Linked DNA regions of Homo sapiens: region 1 is linked to region 2. The links come from fine-mapping of genetic effects on gene expression. A gene starts in region 2. The other region holds a variant in brackets. All regions are shown on one strand. Distances are between the middles of the regions.

Region 1 (8,000 bases), 120 kb before region 2:
CCTGGACAATTATTCTGGGTGACTTGGGAAAGCTGATTAGGAAAGCAGTTCTCGACAGCCAGACTGGCCGCAGAGGAATGGCCTGGGAAGTCTGCTAAAAACAGATTCTGGCTGGGTGCAGTGGCTCACGCCTGTAATCCCAGCACTTTGGGAGGCTGAGGCAGGTGGATCACCTGAGGTCGGAAGTTCGAGACCAGCCTGACCAACATGGAAAAATCCCGTCTCTATTAAAAATACAAAATTTGCCAGGTGTGGTGCATGCCTGTAATCCTAGCTACTTGGGAGATTGAGGCAGGAGAATCACTTGAACCCAACAGGCGGAGGCTGCGGAGAGCCGAGATCGCGCCACTGCACTCTAGCCTGGGCAACAAGAACGAAACTCCATCTCAAAATACAAACAAACAAAACCAAAAAAAAAACCCCACAAATTCCTCAATCAAATTATCTAGGAGAGTGGGATCCAGGAAGCTGCATCTTTAACATGCTCAAGTAATTCTGCCATTATTCAGTCAAGTCTGGAAACATACATAGCTTTCTTCCTGAGACCTCATGGTTCTCCTGGAGCAATCGTGGGTTTCTTAGCGTGAACACTTTCACTCTCCCCTTTATAGAATATTTCACACTTGTAAATGATACTAGTATTTCTATATAATTATTGGTTTAGTGACTACTTTAGATAAACTAAAAGCTTCACAACAGCTGGAACTGTATCTCTCTTATTCGACAGTGTACCCCCAATCCTTAGCACCATGCTCAATATGTAGGCACAGAATGAATAAAGGACAAAGAAGCCAGTAGCCAGGTAGATCAGGTACGATCATTTAGCCACCATTCTACTGGTTAGTAAACAATGGTAACAGCTCCACAGACCGAAGCAAGAAGCCCAGCCAGCGTGTGACCTCTTCTCTTGCTGCAACACCTTAGCTTACCCGGGATGTCATGAAGAGGAGTTTAGTCTCCATGTCCGGGGTTAGACGACATGCTAGGAATTTTCGGGATGTTCTTGACTGAAGAAGCTGTAGGATACCTGAATCAAATGTGGAAGGGAAGAGAAAAGAGGAAGCCTAAGGACCAGAAAGAATGAAAGGCATGTTGGGAACCTGGGCCAGGTACTGATGGCCAGTAGTCTTGCTCACGGAGAAATTCCAAGACAAGACCAAGGGAGGTCAAGCACAGGTGGGGATTCCAACCAGCACTTACGTGTTCTGCTCCAAACAACCACTATCCCCAGGACCCAGCTATATTACTTCCTGTCTTCTGCTGGTCTTCCAGAGTCTCCTACCCACATGATTCCCACTGGTAACAGATGGGAAAGTTAAGGGAAAAATATGGGAAACCCTGGCTGCTCTTCCTGCTCCTGATGATCCCATCCTTGGGTCCTGGAATCAATGTTATTTGTGGCATGAGCATGAGCCCTGGAGTCAGAAACATGTGGATCCAGATCCTATTGTAGCTCATAAGCATGATTATTGGTTTTTCACACTCATGCGTGAGATGTGCCTCCCTCAAACCTTGTTACCATGTCCCCACATTACCTGCCTGACATGAGAGAACAAAAATAATTTAAAAGACCAGCATGGTGGCTCACACCTGTAATCCTAGCACCTTGGGAGGCCGAGGCAGGTGGCTCCCTTGAGCCTACGAGTTCAAGACCAGCCTTGGCAACATGGTGACACCCCATCTTAAAAAACAGAAAAAAAAAAAAAAAAAAAGAGGCCAGGTGCGGTGGCTCATGCCTGTAATCTCAGCACTTTGGGAGGCCAAGGCAGGTGGATTGCTTGAGGTCAGGAGTTCAAGACCAGCCTGGCCAACATGGTGAAACTCCATCTCTACAAAAATACAACATTTACCTGGGCATGATGGCAGGTGCCTGTAATCCTAGCTACCTGGGAGGCTGAGGCGGGAGAATCGCTTGAACCCAGGAGGCGGAGGTTGCAGTGAGCTGAGATCACGCCATTGCACACCAGCCTGAGGGACAGAGCAAGACTCCGTCTCAAAAAAAAAAAAAAAAAAGAGACCTGCCTCTGTCACCTAACCTACCAGCTGTACAGCCTTGGGCAAATTACTTCATCTCCTTAAACCTCAGTTTCTTTTCTTTTCTTTTCTTTTTTTTGGGACAGAGTCTCACTCTGTCGCCAGGCTGGAGTGCAGTGGCGCGATCTCGGCTTACTGCAAACTCCACCTCCTGGGTTCAAGCGATTCTCTTGCCTCAGCCTCCCGAGTAGCTGGGAATACAGGCATGTGCCACCATGCCCAGCTAATTTTTGCATTTTTAGTATAGACAGGGTTTCATCATGTTGCCCAGGATGGTCTTGAACTCTTGACCCCGTGATCCGCCCGCCTCGGCCTCCCAAAGTGCTGGGATTACAGGTGTGAGCCACCGCGCCCGGCCTCAAACCTCAGTTTCTTTATGTATAAATGTAGAAACTAAAATACTCACAGGGCTGTCCAGAAGATTAAATGAGGTAACACATGTTTGTCTAACACAGTGGAGGCACTTAAAGCAATGAAATAGATGTTCAATATAAGAGTACTACAATTTCCAGCACTTTCTTCTTTCCTGACTTCCCAGGTCCTGGACAACTGCCTTCAGAGTGAGTGTGTGTGTGTGTGTGTGTGTGTGTGTAGGAGGGGAGCGGGTGCATGCACGATCACAAGCACGTGTGTGTTGAGGTGGGGTGGGGAGCAAAGCTGTACAGTTATTGTTCAGAACATAGCAGGACCCTGGGAAAGGGAAAGGGATATAAAAAGGACCTTGTCGGGAGGAGGCACACGGAGACTCCCTCCTCCAAAGTGGATTTTGCCCAAGCTGGATCCTTGGAATTCGAGGCAAGACTGTTCCCAGGGAGGGGCCTTCTCTTACAGGACTAATTCCAGCCCTCTACTGACTCAGTCTCACGAGTTGACCTCTGACTCCCCTGCTAGACTCCGTGAAGCTGAACACTGGCCACTGGCTCACCTCCTGAGCCAAGGAGCTGCCAGGAAGAGGGGAGGAGGACTACAGTTATCTGTCTCACTTTTTTCTTAGTAGTAATGTGGCAGCTGGAGTCTGCCAAGTAGGGGCTGTCTAGGAACTACATGAATTGTTCTGTACCTCTGCCATTCGCAGTTGTACTTGGCAAAGCTTGCCCTGTCCCAGGCTTCCTAAATCTGACCACCAAAGACTCTCCTACCCACCAACCTCTACCTTCTTGATTCAAGCAAGACATACACATTGAACTCCCAGCTCTCAAGGACAGGATGCCTAAGACCCTACTTACCTGTGAACTGAGGACTCAAGGCCTGAGGATTATGGATAATATCTTTCCAAAGCAGTTCAAATTCTGGTATCCTAGCAACATTCTGAAGTAGTCTTACGAGATCCCGACCAATCATCAGACATTCCATGAACTTGATAGGGAAGAGGAAGTGGGGGACAGGAAAGAGAATAAAAACATGGATTGTTTACCTGCTGGAGGGAGGACAAAGGAACAACATGTTCTAGGGAGGGAAGGAAAGAGGGTTGAAGAAACTATGATTTCTTCTGGAACCAAAGGATTGGCTCCTAGCTGTTCAGGGGAAGAGAGCTGGAAGCTGGGGACTGATATCAAGGATGAGAGGTTAGTGGGAAGTGCTGAAGCCCTGCTGGCTTTCACATTAATCTACCTCCCTCTCCACTCAGAACTGTTTCAATCCAGTTCAAGGAAGATTAAAGTTTCAAAAGGATGGGACTGGCAAGTTGAGCCCCAGAAACCCTAACCTCAAACTTATTTTGTCTAACAAAATTCTGCAGTATCTAATTCTGTGGGTCCGATTCTGTGGTAGAAATGTCT[A/G]TATCTGTGTAGTCTAAATGAAACCCATTAGCAACGTGTAGCTAATGCAACTAGAGAAGTGAATTTTAACTTTTTATCTAACATTAATTTTAGGCTGGGCAGAGTGGCTCACGCCTATAATCCCAACACTTTGGGAGACTGAGGTGGGAGGATCACTTGAGGCCAGGAGTTTGAGATCAGCCTGGGCAACAAAGCAAGGCCCAGTATCTACAAAAATAAAAAGTAAAAAAAATTTTTAATTGCCACATGGGAGGTCTGATAGAGGACAATTCATAATCCCACTAGACCATGGGAATTACCCAGGAGAGTAGGTGGGGGACTGTGTCATGGTAGGCACACAAGGACAGCTTATGTCTGTGGTATACAACAGTATCCTTGAAGCTGACCAGGGAAATCCCAAAGATGCCAGCTTAACAGGTAGCATTTCTAGGAATTAGGGCTATTTTACACTAACTCCCCCTCCTTTCTACCCTCATCTGTTGATGAATGATGGAAAACACCAGATCTTGATGCACCTTCATCTCTAACAAGGTATTTCTGACTCCACTGCATAAACCTCCAGAGGTATCTTAGCCTGAGTCTCACTTCCCCACATTATTTTTGTCCTGTTCCCTCACCCGTTCCCGAAGCAGTGAGATGCAGAAGTCTACTTCCTTCTGTCGCAGGGCCTGGAGCTGGGCAGTCCCATGGTGGTCCACGATGAGGCGGAGGTACGTGTAAACAGCCATGGCAATGAGGATGCTGCTCTTCAGGACCCACTCCCTGCAGGGAGGAAACACACTGGCTCCTATGCTCTGTCTAGAACTATTCACCCTCCCAATTCACGCTTCTTGGGCTTGGCTACAGTGCCTCAGAAATAATTGATGATTTGACACTGGGAGTAGATGCTTTGATTTTTTGCTTGCTCACTCATGCTAGTATCTATCTTGGACTATCAACTGGCTAAGCTACGGACAACTTCCTAATTTTCTCTTCCAAGTGCCTATAAAGATAAGTGCCAAATGAAAGCAATCTCTTTTTACCACCTAACTACTTAGCTTCCAAGAAAATAACTCTCTTTGTTGACTCATTCATTCAAACATTTACTGAGTGCCTATCATGTGCCAAGCAACATGTGAGGTACTAGGGACAGAATTAACCACAGTATCTACCCAGGTCAGACTATGGGGAAAAGCTGGGTAAGTGTCCCTAAGTCAGTGGTTCTTAAGTGTGGTGCAAGAACATGTGGGGACTGCCAAGACCCTTTCAGGACCTGGAGTTTTGAGAACATACTGTGCTAGCTCAGTCTGCTTATCATTAGCAGCTCACCATGCCACAAACCTTTCCCTGGCTCTATCTAGTCACTGATACACAACGAGTCCCCACTCCCACACAATGAGTCACCTGTCCTAAATCACAACCTGAAAAAAAGAACCCGATTTTGGGTGGCAAACTCCTTTTCCCATGAGTTTCAGAATATCCCTGAGGGAAAAGGGGGTAATGAAAGATTTGTTCCCAGTTGCTTTAAAAGGAGTAGAGAGAAAGACACAGTGGGGATATTCCTAAAACTCTAATCCTGTCTCTAAGTGACAAAATTGAGACGCTGTCTCCTCCCAGCAAACAATTTGTAATGGCTTTGGCCCCCCTGTTGGAAGGCAGGGAACTGCAGGAAGATGAGATGGTGTTTAATTAGTCCAAGCAGGCCACATCCTGATTCCGGAAAACTACTCAAGCCACCTAATTAAAAGACTCTGTGGCCTTTTCTTTTCACAGAATGGATACACTAGCCAAGGTTACTGGGGAACGTTTCCTCCCCTACCTGCTACCTTTTAACTCCACAGCCCTAGAAACATTTGGAAGGGAGTGAGAAGGAGGGTGTAGGAGAGGACACAGTTTTAAATTTCTAGGTATTGACTTTCACCAAAAGATGTAAGTTTTTTGGAGGGTAGAAAACAGGGCAGTTATCTGGCTGTTATCTGATGCCTGTACAGGAAATTCAGCTTTAAGGTATGGGGACAGGACGTATTTGGTACCACGAATAAAATAAGAAAAATCACTTTTTAGAAAGATTGCTAGCAAAGGTAACGAAATTACCTGAATCCTGGAATGGCATAATAAAGAGAAAGAAAGAGTTGAAAGGCCCCCTGACCCAGGACAGTAAAAAGGAACAAAGACCTATCTGGTAAGAAGAGACTGTTAGGATCTCACGTGCTAGTGCAATGACACCAATAACAGAAGTGGCTCCAGGCCCAGATGTGGCTGCACATCCGTGCCCAGAGCACTAGGTGGCACTGCACAGCAGACAGGGCAGGGCTCTCAGACCTGGGCAGAGCACAGCACACAGCCATCTCTTTCACAAGTGTGAACGTTGGGAGGAGGTCCATTCTTCTGAACTACAGATAGTATGGACACTATTAGCCCTCTCAATCATTTGACTACTATGGTGTCCTCAATCAGAAAAGAGACTTAGAAGTCAAGCAAGAGGAAGACTGAAACCAAGGGGAAAGCCTCACCTCCAAACAAGTTCAGATGTGGAATAGCCCTCATAAAATTTCTGGCCCTTTATTTTGATGGATAAGGGAAAGAATCAGCCAGAAAGCCCAATATGTACCCCCTGATGCACCCTCTACCACTGGAACCTCCAAACCCTATATGCAAACTCCAGCAGGATTCACTAATCTCTATTACCTGCTCCACCCCAACTGCCCCCTGTGCCACTTCAAAAAGAGCAGGGGTTGGATGGAGAAGCTTGCAGGGGAGAAAAGGATACCTGCCAGGCGTGGGTGTTTGGCTGGCCCAATTCTACTGAGCTCATTCCTCCCCAACTTCCCCCTAAGATAAACATTCCAAGGAGGTCTGGATCAAAAATAAACCCTTATCAGATGAAGCCAGTTTTTCTGGGCTATGCGATATTTTGGCAAAGACCTCTTTCCCATTCCTTCATTCCTTGGGCATTAATTTCTTCACTTGCCAACAATACACTTGTCTCTCCCTCTCCTTGCCTCCCCCTCTCTAACTTAAGGTGTTCTTGGGCCACACAATCCTTTCATCCCCATTTCCCACACCCACACTCCTAATGGCCATTATCTGGCCTGTACCCCACCCTTCGTGGTGGATGCTACCTTTGCTCTGTCAGGATATCCAGAACACTTTCTGCCAACCAGATATTTTTGGCTGTAACATCTCCACCTGATTTCAAAAGGGGAAAAAAAGAATAGCTCCGATTAGCAAGTCAGCCAATCCAATACATCTCTTCACCCATTCTGCTGGTCCACCCTGACTGCCATCCCATTACTGCCATCCCTTCACTGCTGAGATAAACTGCCTTCTGTTCTGTCAGGCTTTAAAGTTTCACCCTTTGCCTCCAGAAAGAAGGAAAGGGAAGGTTCTGAATTTTTCTAGAAACCAGAGCTGCTACTTTCCCACAGATTGTGAGTTGGAGTGGGAACATTTTGGCCCTTGAAAATGAACGTCTGAGAAGTAGATATAAGAAGCCCACAGTTGGAAAGAAAGGATGATATCTCAGATAGAGCCTGAGAAGTACAGGTGGCTGACAACAGCTGCAGTCTAGCAACTGGATGTCCTGAGTCCTGCACTGAGGCCCCCAACAGGCCAAGAGTTTCTTATTTCCAGGTAACAGTCTTTAGTGCTTGCTATGAAACTCTGTGGGGCAGAATTAACACACAGCAATGCCATACCAGTCTTGGGATAAGAAGCAGGGGCTGGAAGTGCCAAACAGGGAAGAAGTGCCAGGAAAGAGGATAAAAATAGCTACAACTATGCCTTGCCCCAGGTCTCAATTAAAAAATTCAATGTTCACAAAGTCACATATCACATAGATTAAGGTTCATACACATCAAAACAGGAGCATCAGTGTTACATAAAATTTTAAAGAGGAAGCAAGTCCCAGTGGGCTAATGGTGAGGTAGTAGCAGGTCACTTTTAAACAAACACATGCAATCTTGGGAGTAGCCGCTTGAATATGCGATAGCTCAGACAGATGTCACCGATGCCAAGATGAGAATAAAACCTAAATGTCAGGGTCTGTTCTGTGACATAGTTTGTCCCTCATTCTGGCCCCAGTAAAGGGCTTAATTATTAGGGAGCAAGCGTTCAGATAATGGGGGTGGAGCCAGGGAAGATGTCTAGGTTTCTGAAAGCACAGGGACTTGAGAACAAATTAATTGCCCTCACTTCTCTCCCCATTTC
Region 2 (11,528 bases):
ACCCAAGCTGGAATGCAGTGGTGCCAACTCCACTCACCGCAACCTCCACTTCCTGGGTTCAAGAGATTCTCCTTAGCCTCTTGAGTAGCTGGGATTACAGGTATGCGCCACCATGCCCGGCTTTTTTTTTTTTTTAGTAGAGATGGGGTTTTGCCACATTGGCCAGGCTAGTCTCAAACTCCTGACCTCAAGTGATCCGCCTGCCTTGGCCTCCCAGAGTGCTGGGATTACAGGCCTGGCCTAAAATTAAATTAAAAAAAATTAAGCTCCTTAATTGCACTAGTCACATTTAAAGTTTTCAATAGCCACATGTGACTAGTGGCTACTGTACCGGAGAGCAAATACAGAACATTTCCATCATTGTAGAAAGTTCTGGCTGGGCACGGTAGCTCATGCCTGTAATCTGAACACTTTGGGATACTGAGGCAGGCAGATCACTTGAGGTCAGGAGTTCAAGACCAGTCTGGCCAACATGACAAAACTCCGTCTCTACTAAAAATACAAAAATTAGCCGGGTGTGGTGGCGGGCGCCTGTAGCTGAGACAGGAGAATCGCTTGAACCCGGGAGGCGGAGGCTGCAGTGAGTTGAGATTGCACCACTGCACTACAGCCTGGGTGACAGAGCAAGACTCCGTCTCAAAACAAACCAAACCAAACCAAACCAAAAACATAAAAAAATTCTATTTAATAGTACTACTCTGGATAGGGACTACTTCCTGCAGAGCCTATACTTAAAGCTTCTTGTTGAAAGGTCCTTTGGAATGATCTGTCAGAGATTCATCTTCAGCAACTTCCATTTACTCTTGGAAAATGGTGCCTTTTGCTGCTTTCCTGAGTCAGGGAGGAATCCAGTCACTCCAAGGCTTAAGGTAGCCGAAGCAGACACCCTTGTTTATTTTTGGTCAGTGAGCCCAATGGTTCAGGGTGGGGGTGTAAGGGTGTTATATTTAACTGCTGAATTTATGCATAGCCATGCAATGCTACCAAAGCCCTTACAGTTGCATGGCACTGCCCTCCAGACGCCCAGCCACAGCTTGGACATATCCTTCCACAGCCACTGTCCGGACTTGCATATAAATTCTATGAATAATAAAGAGCAGGTTTTATTTCAGGTCTGAATAGGATTATCTCTCACTGTAAATTTGAAAAAGAGAACCCCTAACTCAAATTACTCAGTATTCTTGCTCCACTTTACTGGTAAAACTTTAGGTGCTGTGGAAATGAGGGTCACTCTACTCTGTATATTTTAGCATTGAAAACCTTTGACTGCTGGGCGCGGTGGCTCAAGCCTGTAATCCCAGCACTTTGGGAGGCCGAGGCGGGTGGATCACGAGGTCAGGAGATCGAGACCATCCTGGCTAGTATGGTGAAACCCTGTCTCTATTAAATATACAAAAAAATTAGCTGGGTGTGGTGGCGGGCACCTTTAGTCCCAGCTGTTCGGGAGGCTGAGGCAGGAGAATGGTATGGACCCGGGAGGCGGAGCTTGCAGTGAGCCGAGATCGTGCCACTGCACTCCAGCCTGGGCGACAGAGCAAGACTCCGTCTAAAAAAAAAAAAAAAAAGAAAACCTTTGACTAAGGCCATGCAAACTCCCTGCACTATGGGAAAAAGAATAAAATTATTTCCCTGTTGGGTAAATCATTTAACAGAGAGTAAAGGATGCTGTGAGATTATCTAAAGCTGAAATAAAGTTTCTTTGTGGAATAAGCCATTAATCTATGTTAAGGGTTAAGGATCAGAAAACAAAAGATTAATACTCATTGGTAACAGAAACAGGCCACATAGATGGCAAACTCCCTAAAAGAGAAAGACAGTAAAAAGTTACTTATTGGTACCTGCCAAAATTGGAATTCTCTGAACTTCTCTTTCTTCCAGAGAAGTTTCAGCTTTTTGCCCTGAGCCACTTTGCAATCATCCATCACGTCCTGACAGCCTCAGTGGACTCCCTCACAGAGATCACCAGCTGCTTCTGGAGCATTAAGACCCATTCTCTCACCTGCTTAAGTTTTAATGCTGCCTGGACAGAGGGTCTATTCTCCATCTGCTGGGCCAGTCTTCTGTTTCTGGCACTGGCTAGCTGCTGTTGTTGCTGCATCGAAGCCCGAATATTCACTGGCGTCGGCTGTTTGTTCTTCAGCATATTAGTAAAGCTTCAAGGTCGAACAAAATGGATGTTTAAATAAAAGCTTTATTACAAACATTTATTGGCATTTTCATGGCTTGCTAGACCAGGAGCTCCAGATCCCACGAACTTTTAAGTAAAGTGGTACACTTAGATCAAGGCTGATGTGGGTTAAAGACTCCTCTGTTTCCACAAACTTGCAAGAATCAGAAACTTAGAAATGCAGCTAAGTGCAGCACATTCAACCAAAAGTGATAACGAGGGCTCAGGTAACGGCTTTTAGAGAGGTGGAAGGTATGAAAAACACGCAATAAGCAGATATGACAAGAGACAGAAGATATAGTTTCAAAGACAAATGAAGAAAGCCTAAACCTTGGGGGATCCGAGGTGCATTCTAAGGCCAAATATGAGGAAGGATTAGAGCACCTTCAAAGCTCACAGCAATGAACATACTCTCATAAATTACAGGAGTGTATCACATTTTAAAATATATGTCACTAACATGCAAACATAAATATTATGCAAACATAAATAATTAGCTTATCATAGCCAAAGAGATAAGGAGAGAAGCACATATGCCTCAGAAGAGGCAAAAATAGACATTAAGTAAATTTCAGTGGTCGAAAGTCAACTTAATGAAATCACTGATCAAAGGCATTCTTTTTTTTGAAACGGAGCCTCACTCTGTCCTCTGTTGCCCTGGCTGGAGTGCAGTGGCAGGATCTTGGCTCACTGCAACCTTCGCCTCACGGGTTCAAGTGATTCTCCTACCTCAGCCTCCTGAGTAGCTGGGATTATAGGCACACGCCACCACGCCCAGCTAATTTTTCTATTTTTAGTAGAGACAGGGTTTCACCATGTTGGGCAGGCTGATCTCAAACTCCTGACCTCGTGATCCGCCCGCCTCAGCCTGCCAAAGTGCTGGGATTACAGGCATGAGCCACCGCGCCTAAACAAAGGCACTCTTAATGAACAAAGTTGTCAGAGATAGAAACTGCCTTTGAATATCTTTACTTTTCTTAGTCTCCAATCATCACTTTTTCTGACTCCAAGTAGTTACTTTTCAAAGTTACATCAGTTTGATCATTTATGAGCCTGTGAAGAGACTCATTATTTCTGTCAAGGAAGTATAATGGAATGGAAGAGAAGAACACTTAACTGTAGAAGAATCCAAAACAAAACCAAACTAAAAGCAGAATGGAAAGAAAGTGAAATGGAGCAAAGCGAGTGCCTCTTACAAGGCCCAAGAATGACATTCAAGGGCCTTTGGACATATTCATGGCTTGCTACCTGCCTCTTACAGGCCAGACACAACACTGCTGGCCTTGGACTGGGCAGCAAGCCTACTGTAGCCAGGGTACCATGCTACCGTGCTGCACGACCCCAGTATCAACGTAAAAAAATGTGAAAAGGAAGAGTGTTAGGAGTCTTTTAAAATACATCCCACCAAATAAATACTTCAGACAGCTTAACATAAAAGTCTACTGATAAGGGGTTTTGAAACAACCGCCCAATTTGTTTTGTGTACCACATGAGATGCAACTAAGAACAGAGGTCTGTAGCCTTCTGTTGGTATTTAGCTTAAAATTGGCTTTGTGCATTGGACCCCAGGGCCAAGTTAAGTAATGTTTTCTTAGGAAGGAGTTGAAGTTGCTGTTGGCTGCCTCACCGCTCATTTAGAGACATCTTGGTGGTGCTTTTTAGCACAACTTTCGGCGCTGACTGTGCAGCCATCTTCGAATCCCGAGAATCTACAAAGAACAATACGTAAAATGAGCAAATCACAATAGTGACATCATTTCTATAAGTGGCAAGGCCCAAGCCAAAAATAAATAAAAAGGCCTTATCACTGATGACTAAAGAGCACACGAGGGCACATTTCAAGTGCTTAAATTTCTTTTTTTTTTTTTTTTGAGACAGGGTCTCGCTCTGTCACTCAGGCTGGAATGCAGTGGCCACTGCAGCCGTAATCTCCTGGCCTCAAAGGATTTTCCCACCTTGGCCTCCCAGTGTTGGGATCACTGGGACCCAACGCCCAGCAAAAGTTCTTAAGTTTCTATGGCAATTACCTCAGATTATTATAACTTCAAGGTGGCTGGGTATGGTGGTTCACCGCCTGTAACCCTAACACTTTGGGAGGGCAAGGGCACAGGATGGTTTGAAGCCAGGAGTTAGAGACCAGCCTGGGTAACAAAGCGAGACCCAGTCTCTACTAAGAAAAAAAAAAAAAAAAATTAGCGGTGCATGGTGGCCAGCACCTGTTGTCCTAGCTACTCAGGGGAGCTGAGGTGGGAGAATCGCTAGAGCCCAGGGGTTGGAGGCTGCAAAGAGCCGTGATCATGCCACTGCACTCTGGCCTGAGACCCCATCTCTTTAAAACAAACAAATAACCCCAAACAAACAAACAAACTTCAAGGCCCACAAAATACCCGGGAATTTCTCAAAAACGGCAGAAGCCAATCTAGCAATCAAAGTATGGAGTCTGGCTTTTTTTTTTTTTTGAGACAGAGTCTGGCTCTGTCGCCCAGGCTGGAGTGCAGAGGCGTGATCTCAGTTCACTGCAACCTCTGCCTCCCCGTTCAAGCCATTCTCCTGCCTCAGCCTCCTGAGTAGCTGGGACTACAGGCACGTGCCACCATGCCCGGCTAATTTTTTTTTATTTTTAGTAGAGACGGGGTTTCTCCACGTTGGCCAGGGTGGTCTTGAACTCCTGACCTCACCTGATCCACCCACCTGGGCCTCCCAAAGTGCTGGGATTACAGGCGTGAGCCACCGCACCGGGCCGAGTTTGGCTTTTACTCTAGAGCAGTCATTTTCAACCTTGACTACATATGACTTATCCAAGGAGCTTTTAAAACATAGGGCCGGACAGGGCGGGCGCGGTGCTTCACGCCTGTAATCTCAGCACTTTGGGAGGCCAAGGCGGGAGGAATGCTTGAGCCCTGGAGCTCGAGACCAGCCTGGGCAACATGGTAAGACCCCGTTTCTATAAAAATATAAATTAATTAAAAAAATAGAAAATACAGACATCTGGGCCTAGATCAATTAAACCACAATCTCTGGTAATGAGGTTTGGAAATGAACCAATTGTGGGGTCGGGGGAAAGCTACCTAGGTGCTTCTAATGTGCAGCTAAAGTTGAGAACCACTGATCTACAGTGAAAATACAGGCAGGGCCGGGCGCGGTGGCTCACGCCTGTTTTCCCAGCACTTTGGGAGGCCGAGGCGGGCGGATCACCTGAGGTTGGGAGTTCGAGACCAGCTTGACCATCATGGAGAAATGTCTCTACTAAAAATACAAAATTAGCCGGGCGTGGTGGCGCATGGCTGTAATCCCAGCTACTCCGGAGGCTGAGGCAGGAGAATCGCTTGAACCCGGGAGGCGGAAGTTGTAGTGAGCTGAGATCGTGCCATTGCACTCCAGCCTGGGCAACAAGAGCGAAACTCCGTCCCCCCCCAAAAAAAAATATATATATATATGTATGTATATATATACATATATATATGCATGCCTAGTTTCAAAAGTGGCTTTCAACTCCAGAATCAAGTAGGGACTTTAACAAGAAACTGACGATCTGGGGGAGTAGGAAAGGTTTTCTAAATTCACCTGGGAATTAGCTCGCAAAGAGCCCTCCACAAAACTTAACCCTAAAGCCGCCATTAATTTCCAACATTCCTCAAAGTCTTGTACTTCTTAATCTCCCTACCATCCTCAAAGCCCTGTCAAGACTTCCACTTCTGCTCTACCCGCCAAGTTTCCTTTTTATCCTATCAAACCCCAACCTCCATCAATCCCGCCACCAGGTTCCAGTTCAGCCCCTCCCCCGCCCCTTCGCAGGGGCTCCGCCTCCTCCCCGGGGCCTCCACGCTCCAACACCGTAGCTATGTCCACATGCCACCACCCCCTTTCCGCGTCCGCCGGCCCCTTCCGCTCCTCAAGACCGCACCTCCCCCGGCTCCTTCTCACTACCGAAACTCACCGAAGGAAACAGACGCCAGTGCTCCTCCCGGGGCTGCCACCACGGCTCCGGCAGGCGGGCCGGGGACCGGCCGAACCTGAGTTGACGGTGGAGGGGCTCGGGTTAGCTAGATGGGCGGTTGGTTAGATGCGTAAGCGGTAGTATGCGAGCTCAGTTCGTTGTTGCTGGTTGGCTGTCTAGTCGGCCGATCCGTCTGCTCACCCGGCCTGCCCTTTCCTGCCTTTCGTCTGCAGCGGCCGCCAGCTCCTGCTCGGTGTCCAAAACAAAATGGCCGCCACGTCCAGTGCTTGTCTGACCGGCTAAAATGGCGTCTACGCAATTACGTCAGGCGTCAGATCCGCGCACGACTAGAGGGCGGGAAAGATTTGAGCTACGCCTGCGCAGAGGTCAGAGGCGGAGCCTTAGGGCGAAGGCGGGGCTTTCCATGCAGTGCCCCGCCCCTAGGGGCGTGGCCAATGGTCCTGTTGTTGGGGCGTGCCGGGGACTTCACGTTCCAGTAGTGGTTGCGCTGCAACCTCTTGGGGGTAGTTATTAATGTGGGCCTTAGAGGGGATTTGGGTCCCGAATTCCCTCGCCCCTCCGTTCCCTAGCCAAGGTACACCGTCTAAAAATCTTTACGCGGACTTGCCTCGTCTTCTTCCGGACAATTGGGCCTGGGGAATTTGCACTGGTTTTCCCCTCATGGCCACTCGCCCAGTCTGAGAGTTGTGAAGTGCCGTAAATGCTCCAGCCAAGGCCCAGGAGGCCAGTATTAGGAGCAAATTCCTCTCCCATCCTGCACCGGCCAACACCACCGCCCGTCCATGTTTTCCTCCTCACTTCCTCCCCTCCCCAACTTGGCCTAGATACTGTTTACTCCTTCTTGGGGTGGGGCACCTTTGCGTCCTCGATTGCGTTTCCATGTCCTCCCCCCACACCTGCCATCCGTGTTTATTTTGTTGCAGACCTACATAGGGATTTCTCTTTTCTCTCTCTGATTTGTTGTTGTTATTTTGAGACGGGGTCTGGCTCTGTTGTCCAGGCTGGAGTCAGTGGCGCAATGAATCACGGATCACTGCAGCCTTGACCTACTGGGCTCAGGTGATCCTCTCACCTCAGCCTCCCGACTCCTAGGATTATGGGCATAAGCTATGTTTCCTGCTCAATAAGGGATTTTTCTCTCTTTCTTTTTTTTTTCTTTTTGCAGATGGAGTCTCGCTGTGTCACCCAGACTGGAGTGCAGTGGTACCATCTCGGCTCACTGCAACCTCCGCCTCCCAGGTTCAAGCGATTCTCCTGCCTCAGCCTCCTGAGTAGCTGGAATTACAGGCGCGTACCACCATGCCCCGCTAATTTTTGTATTTTTAGTAGAGATGGGGTTTCACCAGGCTGGTCTCCAACTCCTGACCTCAAGTGATCTGCCCGCCTCTGTCTCCCAAAGTGCTGGGACTACAGTCGTGAGCCACTGTGCCCGGCCTCAATAAGGGATTTTTCTAATGACTATGTGCACAATACAGTGTACATATGTTTGAGGAATGAGAGAATGACACATCTGCAACCCTTCCTCTGCTCCACTGGCACGTCAAGACCCTTTCATTTTCCTTCCTGGCACTTGGGCGTGTGCGTGTGTGTATGTGTTTGTGTGTGTCTGTGTGTAAGTAATGGCCCAGCATCCTTACCCATGTGAGGGTAAGGATCGTGGTTATTTTGCTTAATGCTGGAGCCTCAGTTCCTACAGTGTTTACACATAGTACCACTTAAGTAAATGTTCGTTGATTGAAAGAAGATTCTTTCGGCCTAGCGCGGTGGCTCATGCCTGTAATCTCAGCACTTTGGGAGGCCGAGGCGGGGGGATCACGAGGTCAGGAGATCGAGACCATCCTGGCCAACATGGTGAAACCCCGTCTGTACTAAAAATACAAAAAATTAGCCGGGCGTGGTGGCAGGCGCCTGTAGTCCCAGCTGCTCGGGAGGCTGAGGCAGGTGAATCGCTTGAACCTGGGAGGCGGAGGTTGCAGTGAGCCGAGATCGTGCCACTGCCCTCCAGCCTGGGTGACAGAGCCAGACTGTGTCTCCAAAAAAAAAAAAAAAAAAAAAAGATTATTTCTTCCTCTGGTTTTATAGTTGAGAAGCTGATGTCTCCTCGACTTCCAACTGGAACCTTGAACCCCCACATTTCTGGACCTTGAGCATTCCTCAAGTAGGAAGATGTAATGCACCTTGACCTCTTTCTAAATAAGACACTTCCCCAAATAAGGGGAGTTGAGAGTGAACAGTCTTCACGTCTCCACCCACTTCCAGATCCCAGAGGAGACAGACATCGGATGGCTGGTGAGAGAGAAGCCTTTAATGAAAGATGAGTTGCAGGCTTGGACCGCTACTCTTGCGCCCTTGGTGGGGGTGGGGGTGGGGTGGGCAAGGGTGGGGTTATGGAGAGGGATAAGTGGGGTGAGGTGGAAGCAGGGGGAAGAGGCAGGTCTGGGAGGGTGGAGAGGAAGGGCGCTGCCCAATGTGGCTGTCTGCTCAACTGTTCTCCCAGAAGAAATTGTTACAGGCCACTGTGAGAGCAGCCACAAGCACCACATACTCCTGGAAGTCCACCTCCCCGTCTCCATTCTCGTCTAGCTCCTTCATCACCTTGTCCACAGCATCCACATCCTTCTGGGCCTGTGGTGGGAGGAGAGGAAGAGGGAGGTGTATAGGGAAGGGTACAGCACTGAGTCAGAGGCAAGGGGGTGGTTGAGGAGCAGGAGGCAAAGATGAGCGAGAGGAACTGCATTGAATTATGGGACTCTTCTAGGCCTCCTCAAAGGTCTTGAGGGCTTCTGTTGCCTACAGCATAAGCTCTTTCACCTGGCAGAATGAATAATAATGACACCAGTTACCGTATGTTCAGTGCCTATAATAAAGCAAGCACTACACTAGGAGCTTTACAAGCACTGTCTAATTTAATTCTAATACAAATAATGTGAGGTATGTTTCATTATTTCCATTCTAGAGAAGAAACAAATTGGTAATCGGTGGTTAAATAAATATGCCCAAAGTCCCACAGCTAGAAAGTAGCAGGGCTGGAATTTGAACCCAGTCCAATAAAACCTCAAAACCGGTGCACTTTCTACCGTATCCTGAGGCTTCTTTACTTTGGGGCCCTGGTTAGCCTTAGCAGCCTAGTTTTCTACATCCTTCATGCCAGTTGAATGAAACTACTGACATGCTCCACATTCTTCTTTCTCCCATGCTTTTGTTCATTCAGTTACCTCCTCCTAAAATGTCTGCATTTACCCAGATAATCTTCCAATGGAAATCCATGGTTCAAGTGCCACCTCTTCAGGAAAGCCATCTGACTTCAATCAGGTTAATAATCTCTCATAACCCTTTCTGGTACATCTGTTAAGGCTCTGTGTATTTCCTGGAGTTCATGGTTTACTTTTAAGTGTCAATCTTTCCCTTCTAAGTCTGTGTGTCTTATTATTGATGAATCTACACAGGGCCTAACACTTAACAGGTGATCAATAAACCAGGGCATTTTGACTTGACCCAGGAGGAGTAGGGGAGCCTGGAAAAACCCAGGAGAGAAGCCTGGGAAAGGAAAGAAAGAGGCTAGGCTGAGCTGGAGGTGGGGTGGGGAGATAGCAAGGGGGTGTCCACCCCATTCCCCCAACCTTCACCCACTCCACTCCCACTCCACCACTCTATGCTCACATCCAGGAAGCCAGAGAGCTCCGTCTGCAGCAGCTCTTTCAGCTCCTTCTTGCTCAGCTTGTACTTGTCCCCCTCTTTGCCCGAGTGGGCGTGGAACACGTTGATGAGGGTCTCCATCGCCGTCTCCAGCTCAGAGCCCATTGCAGCAGTGCACCTACCCACCCCCATCATGGAAGTGAGCTGAGGACCAGGCCCGGAGTACCTGGGGTCTAGGTGAGGGGAACCCTCAGGACTGGCCCTGGCTGACAGCTCAAATAGCTGTGGGATTAGAGCCCTACTGCAATTGATCTTTCCCTGAGATTTTACAATGTGAGGGAAACCCCAAGAGACCTAAGTGCAGGCCTGTTCTCTGTGTCCCTCAGTCTGTACCCCAGCCAGAGGGAATCAGGGTTGGGGCATGGAGAGAGAGCAGTTGGAGCTGGGCTGGCTCCAGAGGCCTGTGGTAGATGTCTGCAGTGGCTGCCCAGGCAGGGATTGAGGAGGGTGGGGCAGGCAGGGGTGGTCACAGGACTGGGCCATGCTTCCTCTGGCTCTATTTTTACCCTGGACCTTGCCTGTCTAGCATAGCCAAGCTCTGCTGTTGAGGGTGGTGGGCTGGGGTGTCCACTACAGCCTTCCTTCTGCTGCCCACCCCTAGCAAGGAGTCAGTCTGGTACCCTCGGTCAGCCTGGTAGAGGGGATGGCAGCCCCAGTGGGTGGCGTACGCCTTCTGGGGGAGGGAGGTCTCACTGACTCTGAGTTTCCTGTCAGCAGCTGGGGGCCCCTTTTGGTCCTTCAACTCTGTTCTCTCCTGAACATGTCATTTTGGCTTCTTTGGGATATGCTCCCATTGCCTCTGCAAAATTATCCCTTCCATCTGGTGGGTGGCAGAAGGGGAGAGAGGAATGTCTGAGCCTTTTCCTTGGAGCCAGAGTTCCCAGGGAGTGGGAGAGGAGACCTGCAGGCGTTGTCCCTGCAACTGCTCACTCCTGGTTGATTCGGGGATAGTGGGAGCAAGGGGAATGGGGCTGCTGTGTGTTGGGGGAGAGAAAGGGCTGAAAGCATGCGGTCCTTTGAGTTCAAGGGGCTGGGAGAGAGTAGGAGAAGAAAGGAGAAAGGAGTGGTCTGTTGAGAGAGAAGACTGCCAAGCCGGGGGGCCTCTTTCCCTTGGCCCTGGGACAGTCTGGCCTTCCACAACCCCAGAGGGGGCAGCTCAGGTGTCTCGGATCAGATGTCCCCATCCTTCCCCAGGCCTAGGGGGCTGGACAATGGCCCCTGATCGAATGACATCCCAGTTCTTCAATGGGGCCCTTGTGAGTGTCATCTGAACTCCGGACCTGAGAAGCAGTTGTCACAGAGACATGGGGGAGATGGAACCCAAGCTGTGGCTGATGAGGGGATAAGGGGTGCTTGAGGGAGGGGTGCTGGTAGCTTGATTACCTGCTCCATGCCAGAGGGGCAGCTGGAGGTCACCTGGAGCCCTAAAGCAGCCTGGGATTTTACGTGGTGGCAGTTCTGAGAGGACTTGGGGGCAGGGGAGATGGGGAAACAAAGAGGTAAGAATGGGGGGAAAGAGGAGTCAAGAGGTCTGGGCCAAAAATGGGAGGAGGAGAAAGGGGAGGTCCTGTGGAGGTCGAGTTGGGAAGGGGCACAGCACCCTACATCTCTGCTTCCCCATATCATGGGAGCTTTGCCCTGCCACCCCCAGACTCCCCCGGGACCTGAGCTCTTGGCAAGGCAGGGTGGGGGTGGCAGAGACTAAGG

What was found.
Region 1: its variant is fine-mapped to the expression of CHTOP in whole blood (INTERVAL, PIP above 0.99).

Annotation. Positions count from the first base shown.
Region 1 is chr1:153,747,669-153,755,668 of GRCh38, reverse strand. It overlaps INTS3 (integrator complex subunit 3), which reads right to left. Exons shown (of 30, transcript NM_023015.5): 6 at 6,914-6,980; 7 at 4,430-4,574; 8 at 3,261-3,390; 9 at 930-1,027. It overlaps LOC124904820 (small nucleolar RNA U13), which reads left to right and starts at 1,442; the gene lies at 1,442-1,545. The variant A/G (reference allele first, on the strand shown) is at 3,813.
Region 2 is chr1:153,628,920-153,640,447 of GRCh38, reverse strand. It overlaps CHTOP (chromatin target of PRMT1), which reads right to left and starts at 6,382. Exons shown (of 6, transcript NM_015607.4): 1 at 6,105-6,382; 2 at 3,795-3,876; 3 at 2,000-2,153. The coding sequence starts at 3,859. S100A1 (S100 calcium binding protein A1) reads right to left here. Exons shown (of 3, transcript NM_006271.2): 2 at 9,786-9,939; 3 at 8,409-8,750. The coding sequence starts at 9,926. The coding sequence ends at 8,607. It also overlaps a transcript of S100A13 not described here. RefSeq lists a silencer at 5,879-5,958 and enhancers at 6,299-6,408, 11,046-11,528.